Homo sapiens: one gene and its partners. The protein of the gene in region 3 purifies or fractionates together with the protein of the main gene of each other region. This does not show direct contact. Each region holds a gene or a part of one and is shown on either strand. Other genes may lie near its edges.

What was found.
Region 1: the proteins of SEC13 (region 3) and MED4 purify together in Homo sapiens (affinity purification with mass spectrometry; 2 studies listed by BioGRID and IntAct, with this or other methods). This does not show direct contact.
Region 2: the proteins of SEC13 (region 3) and PRPF19 fractionate together in Homo sapiens (co-fractionation; one large-scale study listed by BioGRID). This does not show direct contact.
Region 4: the proteins of SEC13 (region 3) and PRPF38A purify together in Homo sapiens (affinity purification with mass spectrometry; 3 studies listed by BioGRID and IntAct, with this or other methods). This does not show direct contact.
Region 5: the proteins of SEC13 (region 3) and KLHL12 purify together in Homo sapiens (affinity purification with mass spectrometry; 3 studies listed by BioGRID and IntAct, with this or other methods). This does not show direct contact.
Region 6: the proteins of SEC13 (region 3) and NUP160 purify together in Homo sapiens (affinity purification with mass spectrometry; 6 studies listed by BioGRID and IntAct, with this or other methods). This does not show direct contact.
Region 7: the proteins of SEC13 (region 3) and TFG purify together in Homo sapiens (affinity purification with mass spectrometry; 3 studies listed by BioGRID and IntAct, with this or other methods). This does not show direct contact.

What each region holds. Positions count from the first base shown.
Region 1 is NC_000013.11:48,081,605-48,085,104, reverse strand, and holds part of MED4 (mediator of RNA polymerase II transcription subunit 4), read left to right. Parts: intron 1-1,676; coding exon 1,677-1,734; intron 1,735-3,373; coding exon 3,374-3,460; intron 3,461-3,500. UniProt on the Homo sapiens protein: Component of the Mediator complex, a coactivator involved in the regulated transcription of nearly all RNA polymerase II-dependent genes.
Region 2 is NC_000011.10:60,896,586-60,900,085, reverse strand, and holds part of PRPF19 (pre-mRNA-processing factor 19), read left to right. Parts: intron 1-781; coding exon 782-937; intron 938-1,154; coding exon 1,155-1,224; intron 1,225-1,459; coding exon 1,460-1,545; intron 1,546-1,814; coding exon 1,815-1,985; intron 1,986-2,134; coding exon 2,135-2,240; intron 2,241-3,500. UniProt on the Homo sapiens protein: Ubiquitin-protein ligase which is a core component of several complexes mainly involved pre-mRNA splicing and DNA repair. Required for pre-mRNA splicing as component of the spliceosome.
Region 3 is NC_000003.12:10,311,113-10,314,612, forward strand, and holds part of SEC13 (protein SEC13 homolog), read right to left. Parts: intron 1,619-3,500; coding exon 1,467-1,618; intron 987-1,466; coding exon 853-986; coding exon of another isoform or gene 718-852; exon of another isoform or gene 464-717; intron 1-463. UniProt on the Homo sapiens protein: Functions as a component of the nuclear pore complex (NPC) and the COPII coat. At the endoplasmic reticulum, SEC13 is involved in the biogenesis of COPII-coated vesicles.
Region 4 is NC_000001.11:52,411,102-52,414,601, forward strand, and holds part of PRPF38A (pre-mRNA-splicing factor 38A), read left to right. Parts: intron 1-13; coding exon 14-99; intron 100-340; exon of another isoform or gene 341-421; intron 422-1,412; coding exon 1,413-1,523; intron 1,524-2,777; coding exon 2,778-2,890; intron 2,891-3,500. UniProt on the Homo sapiens protein: Involved in pre-mRNA splicing as a component of the spliceosome.
Region 5 is NC_000001.11:202,903,235-202,906,734, reverse strand, and holds part of KLHL12 (kelch-like protein 12), read left to right. Parts: intron 1-3,500. UniProt on the Homo sapiens protein: Substrate-specific adapter of a BCR (BTB-CUL3-RBX1) E3 ubiquitin ligase complex that acts as a negative regulator of Wnt signaling pathway and ER-Golgi transport.
Region 6 is NC_000011.10:47,777,618-47,779,984, reverse strand, and holds the end of NUP160 (nuclear pore complex protein Nup160), read left to right. Parts: intron 1-790; coding exon 791-880; 3' UTR 881-1,867; downstream 1,868-2,367. UniProt on the Homo sapiens protein: Functions as a component of the nuclear pore complex (NPC). Involved in poly(A)+ RNA transport.
Region 7 is NC_000003.12:100,743,994-100,747,493, forward strand, and holds part of TFG (protein TFG), read left to right. Parts: intron 1-839; coding exon 840-938; intron 939-3,500. UniProt on the Homo sapiens protein: Plays a role in the normal dynamic function of the endoplasmic reticulum (ER) and its associated microtubules. Required for secretory cargo traffic from the endoplasmic reticulum to the Golgi apparatus.

The DNA of each region.
Region 1 (3,500 bases), on a different chromosome or scaffold from region 3:
CTGAGGTCGGGAGTACAAGACTAGCCTAGTCAACATGGTGAAATCCATCTCTACTAAAAATACAAAAAAATTTAGCTGGGCATGGTGATTCACGCCTGTAATCTCAGGTACTTGGGAGGCTGAGGCAGGAGAATCTCTTGAACCCGGGAGGCAGAGGTTGCAATGAACTGGGATCACCCCACTGCACTCCAGCCTGGGCGACAGAGGGAGACTCTGTCTCAAAATATATTATTTATATGTTTGTATATATTATATATATATTAAAATCTGTAAATATGTATATAAAAATCCTTATGTATGTAATACTTGCTTATCAAACAAAATTCAGAAAATACAGAAAAATGGAAAGAAGAGGGAAAAAATTGTCTTTAGTTCAGCTGCGGAAAGAATGCCACTATTCATAGTTTGGTCTATTTCCTTTGAGTCTCAGGTGTATTAATTTTTTAGGTAATTGTAGTTAGCAGGATACTAACAGACTTTCAATTACTGTTTATTGAAACTTAAGCATTTTTCATATAATTGTATCCACTTTGTTTGATTTTCCCACTTTGTGTTATAAATAATTAAAGACAGTGAACACAGGACCATAAAACTGAATTTCATGACTTAAATAGTAGTAACTAACATTGATTGAGCACTTAGGCACCAGGCCCTGTGCCTTGCATTTTATATGCATTACTTCCATCTTCCTAACAGTTTATATCAAGTCAGTGTCGTCATTTAGAGGAAGAAACCAATACTTTAATAACTAACTTGCCCATGGAGGCTAAAAAGTAGATTGAATTTAAACCTTGATCTCTCTGACTCCATACTCTTTTTTTTTTTTTTTTTTTTTTTTTGAGACAGAGTCTTGCTCTTGCTCTATTGCCCAGGCCAGAGTGCGATGGCACAGTCTTGGCTCACTGCAACCTCTGCCTCCTGGGTTCAAGCGATTCTCCTGCCTCAGCCTCCCAAGTAGCTGAGATAGGCGTGTGTCACCATGCCCATATAAATTTTTTGTATTTTTAGTAGAGATGGGTTTTTACCGTGTTGGTCAGGCTGGTCTCAGACTCCTGATCTCAAATGATCTGCCTGCCTCGGCCTCCCAAAATGCTGGGATTACAGGTGTGAGCCATTGTGCCTGGCCTGACTCCATACTCTTAACCACAGTGTCATAGTCGAAGATATGCATATACTAGGTTAACTTCATTTTGTCCTTTAGTGTACCTGAGGGCTTGGAGGGAGTGTTTTTGTGATAAAGTCATTAAACATTGAGCTGATATATAAACGAATAAGAATATGAATTCAAGGTTGTATCTTCCAAACTAGGGGAAAAAAGGGTATTTTATTCTTGAACTAGTTGCAAGAATAGGATGCTTTTGGGGTCGTCCATAGTCTGGGTGTCTTCTGCATGTTTATGGTAGAAGACGTGAAGAAAAAGACAATCCAATTTATGTTTTGTTTCTACAACTAATTTGTGAATGGGAGACTAGTTCATAAATATAATATTTCTTTCATTAAATATGACTGAAATAAATAATGTCAAGTGGTATTTCAGAACATTACAAATAAATTGTTGGGATTTCCAAGTTTCAAAGATTGTTCTTGTAGGCTAAAGGATCTTGTGAATTAAGCCAAAAACTAAGTTTGATATAGTTGAAGAATAAACCACGTTTTTTAAATGTTGTTTAAATTAGGCAACAGCTGTTTACCAAGCGAAGGAGAAACTCAAGTCAATAGAAAAAGCAAGAAAAGGTTAGTATCATGGGAAGACTGAATGACCTGAAAAGTTAAGGTTCTGGTTTCAGGAAACCAATACAAGAGGATATTACTGATAATCATTTGCTGCTGTTGAAAAGATTCAGTAAATTTTTATTGTAAAGTGTGTTGTGTTCTAGCATTGTGCTGGGTTTTGTGAGGGAGGTAGAAGTATCACATCTTTTTTCAGATTATAAAAAGCAATTAATACAAGGCAGTTTATGGCTGTGTGCCCAAATGTGCAGTAAAAACAGTGAGTTTATAAAATTGGTGGGAGAGGGAAAGAGAAGTATGGGTTAGAAGTGGGATTTGTACCAAATCTTGAAGGTTAGGACAGAGAGAGTGAAAAGACATCCATTGGGCAACTGCGCTGGGACTGAAACATCATGAAGTCAGAGCCAGACGTACATGAAGTCAGAGCCAGTTATACCCTTGGCATATAAGCACATTTGGTGGTGCAGAGGCCCACATGCCTTCCTGCCCTGCTGTCCCTTTTTCAAAGGCTTCTGTTAAATAGCTAATACTCCTTTTTTTTTTTTTTGAGACGGAGTCTCGCTCTGTCGCCCAGGCTGGAGTGCAGTGGCGCGATCTCGGCGCACTGCAAGCTCCGCCTCCCGGGTTCACGCCACTCTCCTGCCTCAGCCTCCCGAGTAGCTGGGACTACAGGCGCCCGCCACCACACCCGGCTAATTTTTTGTATTTTTAGTAGAGACGGGGTTTCACTGTGTTAGCCAGGATGGTCTTGATCTCCTGACCTCGTGATCTGCCCACCTCGGCCTCCCAAAGTGCTGGGATTACAGGCATGAGCCACTGCGCCCAGCCAAATAGCTAATATTCTTTTGAGAGTTAGGTTAGGCTTCTGTAGCAAGAAACAAATCTCTAGGAGAGATGGCTGAGGCTGGCTGTTGACTTCTAGACCGTTGTTTGATTCTGTTTTTAATCTTCAAAAACTGTACACACATACACTTTGTTACATTGAAACAGTATCTAAAGTTTGTAAAATGAAGTGTGTGGTTCTCACTTCTCAGAGGTAACTATTAATGTTTGGTATATGTCCTAGATTTTTTTTTTCTAGATCTGTGAGTATGTATGTAATAAAAATACAAATACACATATGTACATACATTTTGAACAGTCGGGTCATACCGTACATATTATTTAGCAGTTTAGTTTTTTTTTTTACCTAATGAATACATTGTAGACATCTTTCTATTTAGGTCTACTTAAGAGCCTTAGGGCATATTGATCGAACAGAGTGGTGTGAACTGTCTGCTCTGATTTCATAGCTTGGATGTCTTTGAGAAATGAAACACTGTTTTCTCTATTTTATTTGTGCTCACTATGCTTTCAGAAGAGGAATGGTATTTAACGGTAGTTAATAATTGAGATTATTGAGTGCTATGGTGCTAATCTCCGAAATTTGTTTATGTCAGCTAATTTTTCTGGATTAGTGTCCTGTTTTTGGAGATTTAAGTTTATACTAAACATGTAGGTATTGTTAAGGAAGGCAGGTGACTGAGATTATTTTATTTTCAGATAATTTAAAATTAAATACGATGTGTAACTGATAGATACATTTCTAAACTTGTATGTTTGTTAGACTACAGGTTATACTGTCCTCTTAAAACTCTTTCAGGTGCTATCTCCTCTGAAGAAATAATTAAGTATGCACATAGGATCAGTGCAAGTAATGCTGTATGTGCTCCACTGACCTGGGTTCCAGGTAAACATACTCGTCTTATTATACTAGATATATGTGGTTT
Region 2 (3,500 bases), on a different chromosome or scaffold from region 3:
AGCCTAAGACAGTTTGGGTTTGGGGCTGCAGGACATGGTTGGTTTAGTGCTTCGCAGTCAAGATTTCCCTTGGACCTTAGGGAAATGAGAAATATAAGAATAACATGGTGAATTTTTCATGACTAAATTTGTTCAAATTGAGAGCACTGTTTTCTTGCTTATGGGGTATTAATAGTTAGGTCTCATGAAATTGTATTGATAAAAAAAGATGGTAGTTATTTTTACCTTATGGCTTTTAATATCCTAACTAAACAAAAAATTGGTGAGTGACGCGAAATTCTCTCCCTGCCCCAAATCTTTTGGAAAATTAACTTACCCTGGAAATCCATAAAAGTGGAATGCACTGAAATACAGCCATGCAGCCCCTTCCAGTCCCAGTACTGCTCAGACCTGTGCCATACAGTACAGTAGCAGTTAGCTGCATGTGGCTATTTAAATTTCAATGAAATAGAATAAAAAATTCAGTCCCTCAATTGTACTAGCTACATTTTTCCTTTGGTCCTGGAAATGGGAAAATTGCTCTCTGTTGCAGTTAGCCTTTTTACCACTAGATGGCGAGGACGCCTCCACAAGCCCTGATGCTGTATGAGTTAGCACTTTAATAGCGTTTACCATTGGCTGTCTTGGGCACCATTGGGTGGATAGGTGGTTCCAGGGAGGGCAGAGCTGAAAGGAGAAGCAATTGTTGGCAGTTGTGGGCATCCCCAGCCCCGTTTTATAAGATTGTTTTGGTCTGTATCTCTTTTCTGACTCTGATATTCTGTCTTTGTTTTCCTTGTAGGACCTGGTGTTTTCTGCTTCCCCCGATGCCACTATCAGGATTTGGTCGGTCCCCAATGCCTCTTGTGTACAGGTGGTTCGGGCCCATGAGAGTGCTGTGACAGGCCTCAGCCTTCATGCCACTGGCGACTATCTCCTGAGCTCCTCCGATGATCAGGTGCGGTCCCAGCCAGTGCCCTGGAGAGGCCTGCTGGTCCCCAAGCTTGAACATCCTGGGTGGCAGGAACATCTTCCCACCCCAGCTGGTTCCCCAGAACCTCAAAGGAGAATGTTTGCCAGGGTTTGCCAAACCAGGGGCTCTGTCTTGCTGAAGGGCCACCAGAACCTGGGACCCACTTTCTCACTGACTCCATTGTCTCTTTTTTTTTCCCCAGTACTGGGCTTTCTCTGACATCCAGACAGGGCGTGTGCTCACCAAGGTGACAGATGAGACCTCCGGCTGCTGTAAGTTGCCTCATAGGCACTCAGCTTTTTTGTTTGCTGTTTATTATTTATTTTTACATTTTATTTAGTCATTTGTTTATTTGTTCTAAAGATATATTTACCATGAGCACCTGTCTAGTGCGGGCTTTGTGCTGGGTTCACTGAGGAATGTGAAGAACAAGGAACCTACCTTTGCTGCTCTTAGTCTCTCTCCCTGGTGGGCTCTGACCACAGGTCTCTCTTCCCTCCTCCACAGCTCTCACCTGTGCACAGTTCCACCCTGACGGACTCATCTTTGGAACAGGAACCATGGACTCTCAGATCAAGATCTGGGACTTGAAGGTAGGACATGGTAGGCCTCCATCTGAGGCCCAGGGCCAGAGGGAGTGTTTGTGACAATGCAGTGCTAATTAGGTGCTTGTGGCACCTGGCCCTGAAGGTGGAGAGACACTGGCTGTGCGTGTGTGATATGATGGTGTGGTCTGGGGGGTCCCGCTGGCTGTCCTTCCTGGAAGGACGTGAGGGACATCTCAGGTAGGAGTTTGGTGAGCCCCATTTTCTTCCTCTCATGATCTGTGGGTGACGTATTTTACTACCCACCGCCACTGTAGGAACGTACTAATGTGGCCAACTTCCCTGGCCACTCGGGCCCCATCACTAGCATCGCCTTCTCTGAGAATGGTTACTACCTGGCTACAGCGGCTGATGACTCCTCTGTCAAGCTCTGGGATCTGCGCAAGCTTAAGAACTTTAAGACTTTGCAGCTGGATAACAACTTTGAGGTGTGCCCTTCCCCCTCCGCCCAGCTTTCCATTGTGTCTCCTTGTTTGTCAATTATTTATTGAATTAATCTAATTGCTTCTGCTTATCCGCAACTGCCCCATAGTTTCTGTTCCCCTTGTGTGACCTTCTCTCTTTCTATTTCTGGCAGGTAAAGTCACTGATCTTTGACCAGAGTGGTACCTACCTGGCTCTTGGGGGCACGGATGTCCAGATCTACATCTGCAAACAATGGACGGAGATTCTTCACTTTACAGGTAGAGGCTGGTCCTGGGCTCCTGGGATCTCTCTAGGTGCCCAGGCCCGGAGGGAAGCCTCACTGGGTTAGGAATTTCTAGGGCTTGCATGAATTTACCTAAGCAGCTTTCTGTTACCACCTGAGGCAGAGCTTTATGACTAAGGAAGCAACTGAGTCAGACTGCATGGCAGTAGATGCTAGTGCTTGTTCTGCCACTTCCATGCCCTGTGGCATTGGGCAGGTTACTAAAGGGAGAGAAAAGTCCCTCTGAAGTTTTGATAACTGAATCTAAAATAAATGAACATTAGACAGTGACAGGAGGAGAGCCATTTTAATTACGTGCATATGCACGGGAGGCCCACATTATATTAGATCTGCAGAAGGGTCAGATGATTGAAGCTTATACAGTTTATATATCACTTAATAATGGGGATATGTTCTGAGAAATGTCTTGTTAGGTGATATCGTCATGTGCGACCATTGTAGAGTGAACTTACATATATCTAAATGGTGTAGCCTACTACACGCCAAGACTATTGCTATAACCTTAGTATAGTCTATTATTGCTCCTAGGCTACAAACCGGTACAGCATATTAAATGTAGTGAATACAATTATAACACAATGGTAAGTATTTGTGTATCTAAACAAGTGTAAACATAGAAAAGGTTCAGTAAAAATAAGGTATAAGAGATTTTTTTAAAATGGTACACTGGTATAGTGCTTGCCATGAAAGGAGCTTGCAGGACTGGAAGTTGCTTTCAGTGAGTGAGTTGTGAGTGAATGTGAAGGCCTAGGACATTACTGTACGCTGCTGTAGACTTTATAAACACAGTACACTTAGGTTTTACTAAATTCATAAAAAACTTTTTCTTCAGTAATAAGCCTTAGCTGACTTTTACTTTATAAACTTAAAAAAATGGATTCTTTTGTAATAACATTTAACTTAAAACTAAAACACATTGTACAGCTGTACAAAAATATTGTCTCTCTTTACATCCTTGTTCTATAAGCTTTTTTCTAATTTTTTTATTTTTATTTTTTACTTTTTAAACTTTTCTTGTTAAAAACTAAGACACAAGCACACATTACCCTAGGCCTACACAGGATCAGGATCACCAACTGTATTAGTCCGTTCTCACACTGCTATGAAGAACTGCCTGGGTAATTGATAAGGGAAAGAGGTTTAATTGACTCACAGTGACTCGGGAGGCCTCAGGAAACTTACAGTCATAGCAGCAGGGAAAGCAAACATGTCTTTCTTTACATGGCAACAGGAG
Region 3 (3,500 bases):
TGGTACTCTGGTTTCCTTTCACACAATAAAGATGTGCATGTTCACTTCAATGGTACGTCTGCATTGTCCCAGTGTGAGTGTGGGGGTGTGTGTGAGTGCTCCTCTGGTGGAATGGTATCCTGTCCAGGGCTGGCTTCTGCCTCATGCCCTAAGCTGCCAGGACAGGCTCCAACCACCTGTGACCCTGAACTGGAATGAGTAGATTAGAAAAAGAATAGATACAAATTATTGTAGAATTAAACTCATAAAATATCCAATAATCATACAGATGCATGACAGCAAACGATGTGGCATTAGTCATATGAGCCCCCCACATTGGTTATTGTTGGTTTTTGAACTGTGTGGTGGTAGGAGGTAGGACATTGATGTTCGCTTTGCAAACATTTATTCCTTGATTGAACCACCAACATCACGACCACTGTCACTCGCTGATTCACCAAAAGTTGGGTAAAGAATGACCTTGTTTATATTAATCTTTCTTAAATGTATGCATAGCTCACATACTTTTTAAAAGTTTTAATAACACCACTCCATTCTACAGGGTCCCAATGACTACTGCAGGGCATGTCACCTGGAGGCAACCATAGCTAAGGTGGCAGTGAGCAGGCTGCTGCTGCACCAGCCCTCCCCTGCTTGGGAGCACACAACAAGGAAGCAGTGCCAAGCCCTGCCTGGTCTGGCTTCAGGGCAGAGAGGCTCAAAGCTGCTCTAGAGCAATCATGTCTGGTCAGCTGACCACTCCCCGGCCCACTGTCCAGCGGGGACCCTCCCGTGCCACCCTCTAGGGAGGCTGCAGCAGACACGGGGCAAGGCAGGCGCTCTCACTGCACGAAAGGCAGGGGATGGACTCACGGTGTGAGCGTTGTTGATCTTCTTTACTTCCCATTGGCCTTCCCCGGTGTAAGTCAGCAGGGAGATGGCCCCATCCGAGCTCCCACAGGCCAGGATCAGGCCGTAGTCATGGGGGGCCCAGCACACCGAGTTCACTGCGGGAAGAGGGAGAGTGCAGTGAGCAAAGCAGGGAGACCGCGGCCCCAGGTCCCGCCTTCCACAGATTTACTGTTTTACTAAATGTCTACAACAAACAACTGTAGGAGTCACCGGGGGAAGCTGTAACTTGGTCAACTGAGGACACAAAAAAACCCCATCACCTACTAATACCACGATTTCATAACCTACAGTCTATCTAACAAAAAAGTGGGTAGGAAAACAATCTGAGAATGAAGGGTAGTCCTTGCAATGAATAATCCTGAAGAGAAACTCACCTGTCTTTTCTTATTTGCTTTGGACTGGCTTTAGGTCTTAGGGCCTTACTCAGCTGAGGACAGAGTAGCAGAAAAGCCAACCAAAGCTCAAGAGACAGACAAGAGGCACCACGAGGGGCAGGGAGCCAGGGCTCCAGCCGGGACAGAGTCCTTTTTTACCCAGTGGTCCCCTTGCCCGCTCTGCTGCCAAGCTCAGCATACCTGAGGAGTCGTGTCCCGCATGCTCGTGGCTCTTCTCCCAGGTGCCGTTTTCCTCTCTCCAGATAATGACTTTCCGGTCATAGGAGCACGATGCCAGGATGTTGCCGTACATGGGGTGAGCCCAGGCCACTTGCCACACAGGACCCTCATGACTACAAAGGGAGAGATAGGCCAGAGGAACCCACAGTGCCTCTGCAGGCACTACTTTGGACAGAACTAAATGGCTCCCTGAGACGATATATCAGGGCAGAATTGCTTAAGAACTTCAAAGGGAGAACTATACAATGCCATTGCAAAAGGGGTGCTCAGTGGACAGTGAGGAGCCTGAGGTCCTAAGAGGTTAAGCAACCTAAGGTCACAGAGCCTTTGAGAGAGAGTTGAGCCTCTGGGTCAGCCTTCCTGTCCTGGCCAGGCAGGAGCCTCACTTGCCCAGACTGCAGCCAGCACTGTCTGTATGTGCTGTCTACAGCATAGTCATTAATTGGTCCAAGGTTTCCAGCCAGAAGTGTTCAGGAAATATTTGTAGACTGAATTGCTATTCATCCTTCCCGACGGTCAGCTTCCTGAGGAGGCATTATTGGTTTCATTTTGATGTTTTCCACTACTCTTTTAATTTGTTCGAAAGGCATGTCTTTCCCTTCTCTTCTGATCTTTATCCATTCACCTGATAACAGGTGCTATCTGAGCACATGCTCTGTGCCAGGCTTTGTACGGTGACCATTTCTCTGGCCCAGGGAAGGTTTTGCACCTTAGCACTCAAGAGGTAGAGTAGCATGGTAGAGTTAGTGGTTAGGAGACCAGACCCATTCTCCCATTCACTAGCTCTTGACTTTAGGCAAGGATATCTTTGTCTCTTTACCTGAAAATGGAGACATCAATAAGAATTCTTTCATAAAGTTTGGAACAATGCTTGGTAGAAGGAAAGAAAAAAGCCACTCAATACCCATTAGCTATTAGTGCTGCTCCTGGTTTACTCCTTCACCGTGGGCTGCACACACTCAAGTCTCCTCCTCCCTCTGGCTGGGACAACAGGACATTCCCAGTCCCTACAAAGCTGCTGCTAATGAAACTGAGTAGACTCAATCTTCCAACAACTAGCACAGTTTTTACTAAGGGGAAAAAAGAATGGGGTGGGAATTTTTTTTATCCCTCCAATATTTCACATCCTTTGAATGTAAGAAAAACAGCAGAAAGGACAGAGTCACAGCAAACATAACTGCCTTGGCCAACACGCTGCACTGCAGCAGCTCTCTGCCTGCCTGGGGGGCTCCTGCATAGAGAAGCTTGATTTGGCTCCTCAGTCACTTGATCATTTGACACTCAGACAGAGGGGAGCTTCTAGGCCCATTTCCCCAAATGGACACTGACTTAGTTTATGCTTTTTAATTCAGTGAACAAACACATGCTGAGCACCCACCTGTCATGGCTCTTAATCTTTTCTGTGCATTCTGGGGAAGGTTATGGACCCTCATCAGACTAATGTACAAAACACACAGAACTAGGCTTATAAAGAAAATTCAATTATAAATTATACAGTAATCAACTTTTTTTTTTTGAGAAGGGTTTCACCCTGTCATCCAGGCTGCAGTGCAGTGGCACCATCGTGGCTCACTGCAGCCTCAAACTCCTAGGCTCAGGCCATCCTCCCACCTCAGCCTCCCAAAGTGTTAAGGATTACAGGCGTGAGCCACCTTGCCCAGCCTGTTATCAAAATATTATAAAGCAATTTATGAGATAGTGATGCATGTACTTCTTTGTTAACACTTCAAGCAACAAACCCTAGCGGCAGGTCTAATAACCACTGTAATTTCAAAGTTGTGATGAGCATAAGTGGTATTTTGAGGTAGCTAAGTAACCGTGATGTGTGATGACAATATCTGTGAATTCTACTGGTGACAAAGTGACAGGCACTACAAATACTACTGAAGTTTCTGGCCTACATCCATAATTGAAGGAAATGCTAAATATCAGAGTCACTGAAAATGCATTTTTTTCCCCCTGTCCCAATTCATCAACCCCTGAACTCTATTCACA
Region 4 (3,500 bases), on a different chromosome or scaffold from region 3:
CTTTTTCTTGCAGAGTTTGAATTGATGCATGTTGATGAGTTTATTGATGAACTATTGCACAGTGAGAGAGTCTGTGATATCATTCTGCCCCGACTACAGGTAAGAAATAAAAGTCTGTTACCAGAGTCACCCTTCTCTTCCTAGACGGGCAGACAGACAAACACATACACACAGCTTAAACACTGAAGCCTGTGGATCTTATGGGTCCTCTTAATGAATAGTCTTCCTGTCTGGGAGTCCCAAGATAGTGGATTGGGAGTGAGAGGAAAATAGATAAAATATTTGAAGGGTAGGGCTTTAAAAGTGAATGGTTTAAAACAAGGAAACTTTGTTTTTCTCCATCCTTTTGTAGTTCAGGTGCATGTGTGAGTTGTGCCTCCCTCAAACCTTGTTACAAAGTCAGCACATTACCTGTCTATCATGAAAAAAGAAATTTATTCAGGATGTTACATCAAGGGTATTGTAGCTAGAGTAGGTAGGGAGTTTTTAACTTCATGAACGTTTTTTTTAAACTAATCTTCATGTAAAAAGCCAGGACATAAAACAGATAAAAATAGGGCCAGGAGTGGGAGACTGAGCCATTAATTCCTTAAACTTGCCTTCACCATCCTGCTTCCCTTTCCTAGTGATAAACGATTATCCATGAGGCATCTTTTCAGGAAATGAGTGTGATACAGCTCTCCTGTTCCATGTTGGCACTGTAGGGCATGTAGTGGAAAGAATGAGATTATAAATTTGAAAACCTACTTTGAGGGCCCAATTCTTATAGCAAGACAATGTCTTGCTGTGTTGCCCAGGCTGTTCTTAAACTCCTGGGCTCAAGGGATCTTCCTACCTCAGTCTCCCAAGGAGCTGGGACCACGGGTACATGCCACTACATTTAGCCATTTGGCATTTTTGAAATCAGCTTTGCCTCTCTGATCCTTAGCCACTCAAATAAACATTGCTAAGCCATATCCCAGATTAAAATGGAACCAGTTCAAAATGCATGAATATCAACAGCTCCCGAGATCCTGGGTCTACTGGAGATTTGGTACTACTCTAGGGCTAGGCCTCTTCTAGTGGAACTACCAGCCATGAACTTATTAGCCCTTGGATTTTCTCTGTGTGTGAAGCCCTTACTTTTGGTTCTAGGCTGTACCTATACTGATTGATATTCCCATGACTTTAGAGTATAAGGTACAGGGAATAGAGTCAATAGAAAATGAAGATGTTCTCTTCAGGTTTGTATTTATGTTTATAGGAGAACTTTATAGATTTCAGGTCTATTAAACTTGTTAGGAAAATCTTGAACTGTCTTTGAAATGAAATTGCCTCAGCTGTTGCTCCTTGGAACCCTGAAGCCCAGTGTTGAGGTTTCAAGAAATAGGGGAAATGGCAACAACCCCTAACTCTCATCATTTTCTCTGTAGAAACGCTATGTATTAGAGGAAGCTGAGCAACTGGAGCCTCGAGTTAGTGCTCTGGAAGAGGACATGGATGATGTGGAGTCCAGTGAAGAGGAAGAAGAGGAGGATGAGAAGGTCTGGCACCTGAGACTTTTATGGTTGTAGGGGAGGGAGTAATAGAAAATGGGAATGGTTTTTTGTTTTTAGACTTTAATTTTTAACTCTATTGGCCGGGCGTGGTCGCTCAAGCCTGTAATCATAGCACTTTGGGAGGCCAAGGCGAGTGGATGACCAGCGGTCAGGAGTTCAAGACCAGCCTGGCCAACGTGGTGGTGAAACCTCGTCTCTACTAAAAATACAAAAATTAGCCAGCGTTGTGGTGGGTGCCTGTAATCCTAGCTACCCAGGAGGCTGAGGCAGCAGAATTGCTTGAACCCGGGAGGCAGAGGTTGCAGTGAGCCAAGATCGCAACACTGCACTCCAGCTTGGGCAAAAGTGAGACTCCGTCTCAAAAAAAATTTTTTTTCTAACTCTAGCCAAAAACAATATTTCCTTATTAAAAGCACCTCAGCTCTGCCATATACTAGTAGTATAATCTTACGCAAATTACTTAAATTTAGTTTTCTCCTATGTAAAGTGAGGTTAATGATACTTTTTTCCCCAAGACTGTTAAAAGTATTAAATAAGATTATAAACTTAAAGCCCTTAGCAGAGTATTGGCACATTATAATTGCCTAATAAATGGTGGCAGCTATTAAATACTTGGAAAGAAAGAACACTTTCATAATTGCACCTATCCTAAGGAATAAACCTTGTTTAGGAGGGGGAAAATGTCAACCGCATAGTCATGTTCTTTCAGTACTAGTTACGGTGCTGAAAAGTTGAAAACAACCAAGCTGCCCAGTTGTTCCAGGAAGCAAACTTTTTTTTTTTTTGAGATAGGGTCTTGCTCTGTTGCCCAGGCTGAGGTGCAGTGGCTCACTGCATTCTCGGCCTCCCAGGCTCAAGCAGTCTTCCCATCTCAGCCTCCCAAGTAGCTGGAACTACAGGCACGTGCCAGCATACCTGGCTAATTTGTGTATTTTTTTTGTAGAGATGGGATTTCACCATGTTGCCCAGGCTGCAGATAAACTAAACATACACACATACACACACACAGGTCTGTTTCTGTTCCCTCTCCTATGAGTCATTTTGGCTGTCTTATATAGCTCATAATAAGTTTTGTTAGTTAATAGGGTAAGTGCTTCCCTCTTTGTAGTCAGGTTACTGTGCTTTAAAGTCACATGGAGATGGACTTTGGGACAAGATGGGGCGTGAAGTATAATTAGTGTTCCTAGATGGCTCTTTATAAGCCTGTGCCTTTCAATGACCCAATCATCTTGTTTCCAGTTGGAAAGAGTGCCATCACCTGATCACCGCCGGAGAAGCTACCGAGACTTGGACAAGCCCCGTCGCTCTCCCACACTGCGCTACAGGAGGAGTAGGAGCCGGTCTCCCAGAAGGTAAAGCCTAGTCATTGGCCTTTTCCCAGAAGATTTTGAGCACTGTAGCCTAGAAGTTTGGATTTTAGAGAAGGAAAAATGCACGTCTATGGAGAATGTTTGCCCAATATATTAGTTATCTGTTGCTGCAAAACAACCACCTATAAAACCTCATTGGCAGACAACAATAACCATTTGTTCCTTTCACAAGTCTGCAGTCAATGATTTAAGCAGAGCTTGGATAGGCAGTTTTTAAAGTACCTGTTCTGTTGTCGGCTGTCTACTGGCTGGTATGGAATTGCCTTAGCTTGGATGACGGGGGAAATTTCTCTTCTCTGTGTCATCCTCTAGCAGGCTAAGTTGGGCATATTCTCATGGTAGTGGCAGAACTCAAGAGCAAACAAACCCGGTCATGCAAATGTTTTTCCAGTATCTGCTTTTATCACATTTGCAAATATCTCATTAGCCAAAGCGAGTCATGTCACCAGTCCTAAAGTTAGAATGGGAGGGTGCTAGAGTTACGTGACAAAAGACATGGATACAGAGGTGGGTGATACAGAGAAGCGTGAAGGATAAGATTGGGGCCGTTTTTGCAATCTACCACATCCAGTGCGCCAACCTAGGCTTTCTT
Region 5 (3,500 bases), on a different chromosome or scaffold from region 3:
AGCCAAGATTGCACCATTGTACTCCAGCCTGGGCGACAGAGTGAGACTCCATCTCAAAAATAAATAAATTAATTAAATAAAATATATTTAGCATAAAATTTACCATCTTAACCATTTTTACATGTACAGTTGACTCATGTTAAATACATTGTTATACAATCAATCTCTGTAACTCTTTTTGTCTTAACAAGACTGAAACTCTGTACCCATTAAACAATAAACTCCCAATTTTGCCTTTCCTCCCAGGGTAGGAACTTTTTTTTTTTTTTTTTTTTTTTTGAGACGAAGCGTTGCTCTTGTTGCCCAGGCTGGAGTGCAGTGGCATAATCTTTGCTCACTGCAACCTCTGTCTCCTGGGTTCAAGCGATTCTCCTGCCTCAGCCTCCCAAGTAGCTGGGATTACAGGTGTGTGCCACCACGCCTGGCTAATTTTTTGTATTTTTTAGTAGAGACGGGGTTTCACCACGTTGGCCAGGCTGGTCTCGGACTCCTGACGTCAGGTGATCCGCCCACCTCAGCCTCCTAAAGTGCTGGGATTACGGGCATGAGCCACCGCGCCTGGCCATTACTTTTGTTTTTTAAAAAATAATTATTATTTTTAAAAATTGGGTTGGGTGGCCGGGCGCGGTGGCTCATGCCCGTAATCCCAGCACTTTGGGAGGCCGAGGCGGGTGGATCACGAGGTCAGGAGATCGAGACCATCCAGGCTAACACGGTGAAACCCCGTATCTACTAAAAATACAAAAAAAAAAAAAAAAAAAAAAAAGCCAGGTGTGGTGGCGGGCACCTGTAGTTCAAGCTACTCAGGAGGCTGAGGCAGGAGAATGGCGTGAACCCAGGAGATGGAGCCTGCAGTAAGCTGAGATCACGCCACTGCACTCCAGCCTGGGCGACAGAGTGAGACTCTGTCTAAAAAAAAATCGGGTTGGGTATCCCTAATCTGAAAATCTTGAAATTCAAAATGCTCCAAGATCTAAAACTTTGAGTGCCAACATAATGCTCAAAGGAAATGCTCATTGAAGCATTTTGGATTTGGGGTTTCTGAATTAGGGATGCGCAAATAGTTGTGCAAAGAAATAATGCAGATATTACAAAAATCCAAAAGTGTCTGAAATCTGTAGCGCTTCTTGTCGTAAGCATTTCAGATAAGGGTTACTCAACCTATACCATGAAAGCCAGTGATGTAGTGGAAAGAACCTGGCACTAGGAGATAAGACATTTTGCTTACTTTGATTTTTACTCCAATTTCCGACACTCACTCTAGTAACTTGCTGTTTGGACAAGTCCTTTAACTTCTCTGGGTTACCAGTTCTTTATATCAACAGAGTTAATGTTCAGTCACTAAGGTACTTTCCAACACAGAAAAATGTTTCCTTTTTGCATGATAGCACTCATTATTTGCTTATTAAATTGAACTAAAAGCTAATGAAAATTTTTGTGAATCAGTAAACCCAGAAGATTCTTTGGAGGTACATTTCTTGCATATCTCTGAACAGGCAGCAGAAGGGGCTCCTGCTTGGTTAGAGAACTTGCTTATTGCCCTGACCTTAAGGGATTAAACTATAAATCTATATATCTTCATAGTCTTGAGGTTATTTTTCAGAAGTTCTAGAAGGGAAATGCTGAAGCAGTTTCCAATTAGATTCTTAGTATCGCTTTGTCAGTGCCTTAGCAGGTAGATTGTTCTTACCATCATGTCCTCTACCCATCTCTATGCATATTGGCTGCTAAACCAGCTACCAGGATAATGACTCTTCTGCATACAGCAGAAGGAAATTAAATTGACAGCCAAGTTAAAATAGCCTGCCAAATAAGGGATTTTTAGTTATTAACCTTACCCATTACTGTCTCAAAGAAGATATAATGGAAATTACTTTTCTAATTTGTGGCTGTCTCCTTTTTTGAACTAAAGATCAGTGCAAATGGAAATGTGAGTCTCTGAACCCTGTTATTTTAGCAGTCCTGCATCTGCCTTATTTCTCTAACAACGTGTCACAGCACACACACACTCCCCTTCCCCTCTTTCTAAAAATAATGACCATGCCACTGCCAGGTTCTTCAGTTTTAGAAATGTGCTTTTTCACACTGTTCTTGTAAGATGTCCTAGACAAGCTTTTCTCATTAAAAAGATAAAAATCTCACTTAACAAGTACTCCATCATTGGCAGAGAACAAACAGGCTTCTTTCAGGTTGACTCTTTCACTAGCTTTTTTTTACACGAGTCAGATTGTTTGAGTATTGGTCTCCAACTTAGGGTTAAAACATTAAAACCTTAGGAGTTCTTCTGGGGAAGAAGGACTTTCTAGGCACAAAATAGTGGAAGAAATGACAAAGAATAAAAACATATTTGAATAAATAAAAAAATCATATACAAAATTATGATAAATTAGGAACATAGGTTTGGAACAACCCTTTAAAGGGTTAAAGGGTTGGCCTGGCAGGGTGCCTTACGCCTGTAATCCCAGCGCTTTGGGAGGCTGAGGCAGGTGGATCACCTGAGATCGGGAGTTTGAGACCAGCCTGACCAACATGGAGAAATCCTGTCTCTACTAAAAATACAAAATTAGCCGGGCTTGGTGGCACATGCCTGTAATCCCAGCTACTCGGGAAATTGCTTGAACCTGGGAGGTGGAGATTGTGGTGAACCAAGATCGTGCCATTGCACTCCAGCCTGGGCAACAAGAGCAAAACTCCATCTCATAGATAGATAGATAGATAAATAGATAGATAGATAGATAGATACATAGATAGATAGATAAAGGGTTAAAGGGTTAAAACCATTTGTGTGTAAAGAGCTCATAAGAATGCATGAGACAGGGCCAAGAGCAGTGGCTCACACCTGTAATCCCAGCACTTTGAGAGGCTGAGGCAGGCGATGGAGCCCAGGAATTCGAGACCAGCCTGGCCAACAGGATGAAACCCTGTCTCTACTAAAAGTATAAAAATTAGCCAGGCATGGTGACGCATGCCTGTAATCCCAGCTATTGGGGAGGTTGAGGCAGGAGAATCATTTTAGCCCAGGAGGCAGAGGTTGCAGTGAGCCAAGATCACACCACTGCACTCCAGCCTGGGCCACAGAGCAAGACGCCGTTTCAAAAAAAAAAAGAAAAGAAAAAAATTAGTGGTCCCAGCTACTAGGGAAGCTGAAGTGGGAGGCTAGGAGGATGCTTGAGCCCAGGAGGTCGAGGCTGAGGCTGCAGTGAACCATAATTGCACCAGTGCACTCTAGCCTGGGCAGCAGAGCAAGACCTTGTCTCAAAAAAGAAAAAAAAAACAAGAATGCATGAGAGAAACAATAAAGATTTGAGTGTACAGTTCGCAGAAGGGCAAGTAAAGCTGGCTACTAGATACAAGGGAGGGAGTTCAACCTAATTAATAATAGGGTCTTATTAGTTATAAAGAATTAAACATAATTTTTTGCCTACCAGAGTGTCAGAGATTTAAAAACTATCCAGTGCCTCAGAAAGTAGAATGAGTTGGCACCTTTATAGTGTTGGTGG
Region 6 (2,367 bases), on a different chromosome or scaffold from region 3:
GCTGAGACGGGCAGATTACCTGAGAGGTCAGGAGTTCGAGATCAGCTTTGCCAACATGGTGAAATTCCATCTCTACTAAATATACCAAAACTAGCCAGGCATGGTGGCGGGCACCTGTAATCCCAGCTACTCGGGAGGCTGAGGCAGGAGAATCGCTTGAACCCAGGAGGCGGAGGTTCCAGTGAGCCAAGATTGCACCACCGCACTCCATCCTAGACAGCAGAGTGAGACTCCATTCCCCCACCCTGAAAAAGAAAGAAATACAGTGTGATAAATTATCACTGTCCTGAGGGAAGTTGGCATATATAACAACATTTCTCAGGAGTCATATATTCACCCTGCTTGCCTTAACATAAAAAACAATAGTGTTTCCTTGAGTCATTATAGTGATGGCTTATTTTGTTTACCAGTGAGATAGAGTGCCTCCTGAGCCTATCTAAAATATTAGTTCTATATTTCACTTGGCAGCTAATAACTAGTTATATCAGATGCAGCATTTCTGGTTCTGAGAAAAGAGTTAGTGATCCTTTTATTAGAAATACTGGTACGATTTCCATACTTAGAAAATTCATTCAGAAAATGAGACTGAAATGTTGTATATAACAGAGAGGCCTAGTTTTATCAGTAGAGTCACAGAGGAGACTCCTATAACAAATGGTGATTTTATGAAGCAGAGTGGCTAACATCTTTATAAGGTGGAATCTACTTGGTGAAGTCAAAGTTATTAATAACTTCAATATTTTTCCATTGTTGAGCTGTTATGTAATGTTTTCCTTCTTTTCTCTTATAGCTGTCCCAGAAAATACTTGACAAATTGGAGGACTACCAGCAAAAAGTTGATAAGGCAACACGGGATTTATTATATCGTCGGACCTTGTGATTTGGATTGTCACCTAGCCTTTGTAACCGCTTGGTGCCTCTTAGGACTTAAGACTACCCTACAGGAACCCTGTACTCAAGGCCGATTTTTGTAACTGTAAATGATGTGTACAACATTCAAGTCTGCATTCTGCACAAGATAGGAGGGCGGAAGAGTCAGAGGACCCTGTGCTTGCTGGTGGTGCTAACACAATTTCTGGTGTTCAACCTTGGTCTCAAATAGCTGCTTTTGTATATGATTCACGAGCTTTTTTAGAGTTTATATTTTTTTAAACTACCGAAGACATTCATTATCTGCAAATTAAGACTCACCTTCACTTTCCAAAATAGCTGAGGGTTGTTGGCTTGTTGTAGCTGACCACCAAAAGCAGTCACTGCAAATCTTTTAATTCTTCCCTATCACCTTTTGTATTTTAATGCAATTATTTTGGTCCAGAACTGACCTGTATTTTCTGTATTGTACACAAAAGCTAATAATTTTGTGTACTTTTTATTTATTTTGGAGGTTTTATATGATCTTCAATTGAGTATTAAATAATTTGCCTAGATTAAGCCTAAAATGATGACCAGCTAATTAAAGAAGATATTTTGAATCTGGTTCTGAGCTAAAGTTGAGTAAATTCTTAGCTAAGAAAAAATTGGAAATCCATCATCTATATTAGCAACAGATTCTCAGAGTAAATTGTTAACTTCTATGATTTATGATAATCAAGCTGGACTTGATCATACAAGTTAGTCTCATAATGTATTGGACCAAAATGTAAACTTCATTGGTCAGATTTAGAAGCATTCATGCTCACAAGTTTTGGGAAAGTGAAAAATAATAAAATCATCTTGGATTTTATTCTGTATATTAAAATTTATCTTTTAAGGAAACAATCTGTATACTACTTGCTTGTATAGCCTTTTGACCCTTCTTGAGTTTTTCAGAAGCCTTTAATTTTTATACTTTCAATACCATATTTACATTATATACTTTAATTAACAATGTGAGTTTCTCTGTGGTACTGTTGTTGATAGATACTGAGGTGTGTGTTTCTTTTTTTTTTTTTTTTTTTTTTTTCATTTTAGCTCTACTATGATTAATACGAGGCATTTGGTGCAATTAGGGACTGGGAGAGCCCCTGTCCTCCCAGCTCTCTAAACCTGTGGCTTTCAACGACAGTAAGAAAGACATTTTGACCTACATACACATATATAACCAAAAGAAAAGTTTCACAAAATTTGTATCCTCACCTACAGTGTATCCTGATGTTTTCATGAGTGACTAATGGATCATAACCCATAGTATGAAAACATCAAGGGCCAGGCGTGGTGGCTAACTCCTATAATCTCAGCACTTTGGGAAGCTGAGGCAGGCGGATCACTTGAGATCAGGAGTTCAAGACCAACGTGGCAAAACCACATCTTTCAAAAAAAAAAAAAAATTAGCTGGTCGCAGTGGTGCGTACCTGTAGTCCCAGCTACTAGAGGGGCTGAGGCGGAAAG
Region 7 (3,500 bases), about 90 Mb from region 3:
TAATTGAGAAGTAGAGATAATAAAGACATAAACCAATAAATCTTTGCTTGAAAATCACAGGTATGGGAACAGATTGTGAGGACAGAAAAATAAAAAGTAAAAAGAAAAATCATAGGTAATAAGTGTCTAAAGGGTTTCTTCATAGGAACAGTGGTTGTTGACCCCAAATAGGACAAATAGGACTCCCATGTTCAAGAACACATCACCGTTGTTAAAAAGGTCTGCCATTATTAAATAGTGCAATGAAGAACCATTTAGACTTTATTAGAGTCCACGTTATTGGCAAAAGATGTTGGATATTCATAGAAAATCAAACTTGACAAATTCCAAAAGTGTCTTTCAGCTCTGGAACAAAAGATGTCATATAGTTCCTTGCTACCAAAGAGTTTGTTCATATGGTAATAGAGGCCCATACCTTTAGAGGGCAAATACAGTGCTTTAGGAAGGACTTAGATGATATAAATGGTATTTGTCCCTTTTCTCATTTTTATTTACTGATTTTCAACTCACTTGGCTTTTAATGAACATTAGCGTTACTTATCTGTTGGCAGCTGGGTTGGAAAACATTTGTTTTTCTAGACTTTATGAAATGGTAGCCACTGGTGTTGCACTTAATGTTTATTGCCAGTTAGTTCTCTGCAGTTAATCCACAGCAGAGGAATCACACTTCTAAAATGGTTCATTCTCTTCTTCATAGACATTTAAAGTTGAACAAATACTTTCTTGTATATTGTTACTCTGTTTGGATGGAGAGGGAATGTATATGTATCTTAAAAATATTTCTCTTTGCCACATTAAACATGCCTTTTTTCCTTGTGTGTGTGTGTGTGTGTTTTCAGGTCAGATGTACCAACAGTACCAGCAACAGGCCGGCTATGGTGCACAGCAGCCGCAGGCTCCACCTCAGCAGCCTCAACAGTATGGTATTCAGTATTCAGGTGAGCAGGTGTTGAAAGGGAGTTGGCTCATGGTTTTTTGTTTCTATACTCATTAAACTTTAAGTTCTTAATTCCTTGATTTGTAGTACATTGATATAATAGGTATTAAGTTTTTATTAGGGGAAACAACATTTGTTTTATTTATTTTTAAATATTTTACATTAATATTGTAAATCAACATTTCAGTTTTCTGGTGGGGAGATAAAACTTACAGTAGATGATTCTGCAGTAACTTGTAGTATAAAAAGTTTTTAATACAAAGCTGTCTTACTAACATTATCAGTTTATCTCTTAGGCGACTTAGTGCAAGTTTTCCCCCTTCCCTCCACCTCTCCATTTATATGTAACACGTAATTCCAGTGTACTCTTAGTACCTGTAGAAATATGAACAGTTTACTATACATGGAAAGGTGATGTTATTTAAATAAGAGCTCAATTAAGCTACTTAGATTTTAAAATCTCTTGCAAGTATGTAGGAATACCAGAAATAGGCCATAAAAATAAAATCGTATAAAATGTAATTCAGGCAACTAAGAACATTGTTTAGTTGTTTTAAATAAGCATCCTGAGTATTTTGTTTCTATTTTACCATCTGTCCACTGAAGATTATATGTATTTAAGTATGATAAATATTATTAATGTAACTTTGGCTATAATTCCAGTATTTTTTACAGTTATGTCAGAGAGTTTGTGTCCAACTCTTGTTTTACAGCCAAAGATTGAAGTATCAGAATTTCAACTGTAATTAGAAATAATTTATGCAGGTTGAATCTAGTCTAAATTCTATTTTATAGAGTTTTGTGGTATCAGCTAGAGCAGGAGTCAGTAAAGTATAGCCCACAGGCCAAATCTGGACTATTGCCTGTTTTTTTGAATAAAGTTTTATTGGAACACACTTCTACTTTTATATTCTCTACTGCTACTTGGGCACTAGAATGGCAGAGTTGAGTAGTTGCAACAGAAGACCATGTGGCCCACAAAGCCTAAACTATTTACTATCTGGCTCTTTACAGAAAAGTTTGCTGACTCCTGACCTAGACCATAACATTCTGTCATTAATTAAAATTTGAAATATTTTGACACAATTTTATTTAGATTGTATTTGCTGTAGAGTGACTTAACTTGTAGCTACTTGTTTTTAATTGTATAAAATACATAGAACTTAAGTTTGGATTATATCAGGAGGAAGGTTATTTTTAGGATGCAGTTCTTTTAAAAAAATCAGTGTTACAAACTATGTTATTTATAGAAAGAATAGCAGAGCTGAAGAGATTTAGTCATCATTTAATCTCGGGATTTCGGTCCTCACTATGCTTTAGAATCACCTGGGGGAGGCTATGTGTGGGGCCCCATTCCCAGAGATTTTGAATTTCATTTGATTGGGTGTGGGACTCAGGCGTTTGCATTTTATAAATGAGGCAACTAGTTTTGAAAGAGATTGTGACTTGTCAAAGCACATACAGCCATTCAGTGGAGGGAGCTGGATCAGTTCAGTATTTCCCTGTATCATTCTGCATTCTACAACCTAGACTGGAGTTGGCAGACTTACTCCATAAAAGGCTAGATGTCCTATGTATTAAAAAAAAAACTCACATAATTTCCATATTTCCATTTTTTTGCTATTTCTGATGTCCTTCACCTAAAGTTATTTATTATTTTGGAGGGACGGAAGGGAGACTATATATATACACACACACACATGATAGAAGCATTGCCACATTATGTTCAAGAGACTGGTGGGCTGCTAATGAAATCTTCAGCCTGTAGGGTTATTCCCTCCCCTAAGCAATAATTAAGGATCAGATTACTTCCAGGCCCAGTTAAAAAAAAACAATTCAGATTTCAGGTGCCAGGATGAAAAGGCACTTTTCTTTTTTCTCGCAGTGTTAAAATGAATAGGCATTTTCAGTATAAAGCTGAATCCATCTATTTCTTCAAAACCTTATAGTGAAAATTTAAGTTTTATGTAGAGGATAGGAGAACTTGTATGACATTCAGAATTTTTTATGAGTTGGTTTCAGGTCAGTATTTAGATGCTACCATGAGTTAATGCGTTAAAGATACTTGATTTACTTATTAAGAACTAAGCTTGCTCTTAATAAATTTAGTCAGGGTCTTCACTCTGAGTAAAATTTAGTCTTTTCAAATTATTATCTTTGTATTTCTGATCCTACTAGTCTATTAACTTGAATTTGATTGAGAGATATGGAAATAGTCAACTAAATACTCTGCTTGGAGACTAAGAGGTGGTGGTGGTAACATTGGACCATCTTTGACACTGTTGGTTTGCCAGTTTCCCTCTGACCTTTTCCAGTTTTGTTCATGGACTATGTCATAAAGGTTTCTTTCATGAGTAAATTTTGAACCCAGGTTCAAGGTGAGTTCAGAATATACTCAAATTCATTCAATCCTTTTTTTTTTTAATGCAGGGTTGTACATATTTTAATAATTTTCTTATGTATCTGGTATTTAATGCTGACAGGATTCCAGTCAATGGAGAGGTTTCATTGCAAGTAGCTGCAGGTGTGTTTCATGGTAGAGATAAAAGTTTTCAGTGAAGCA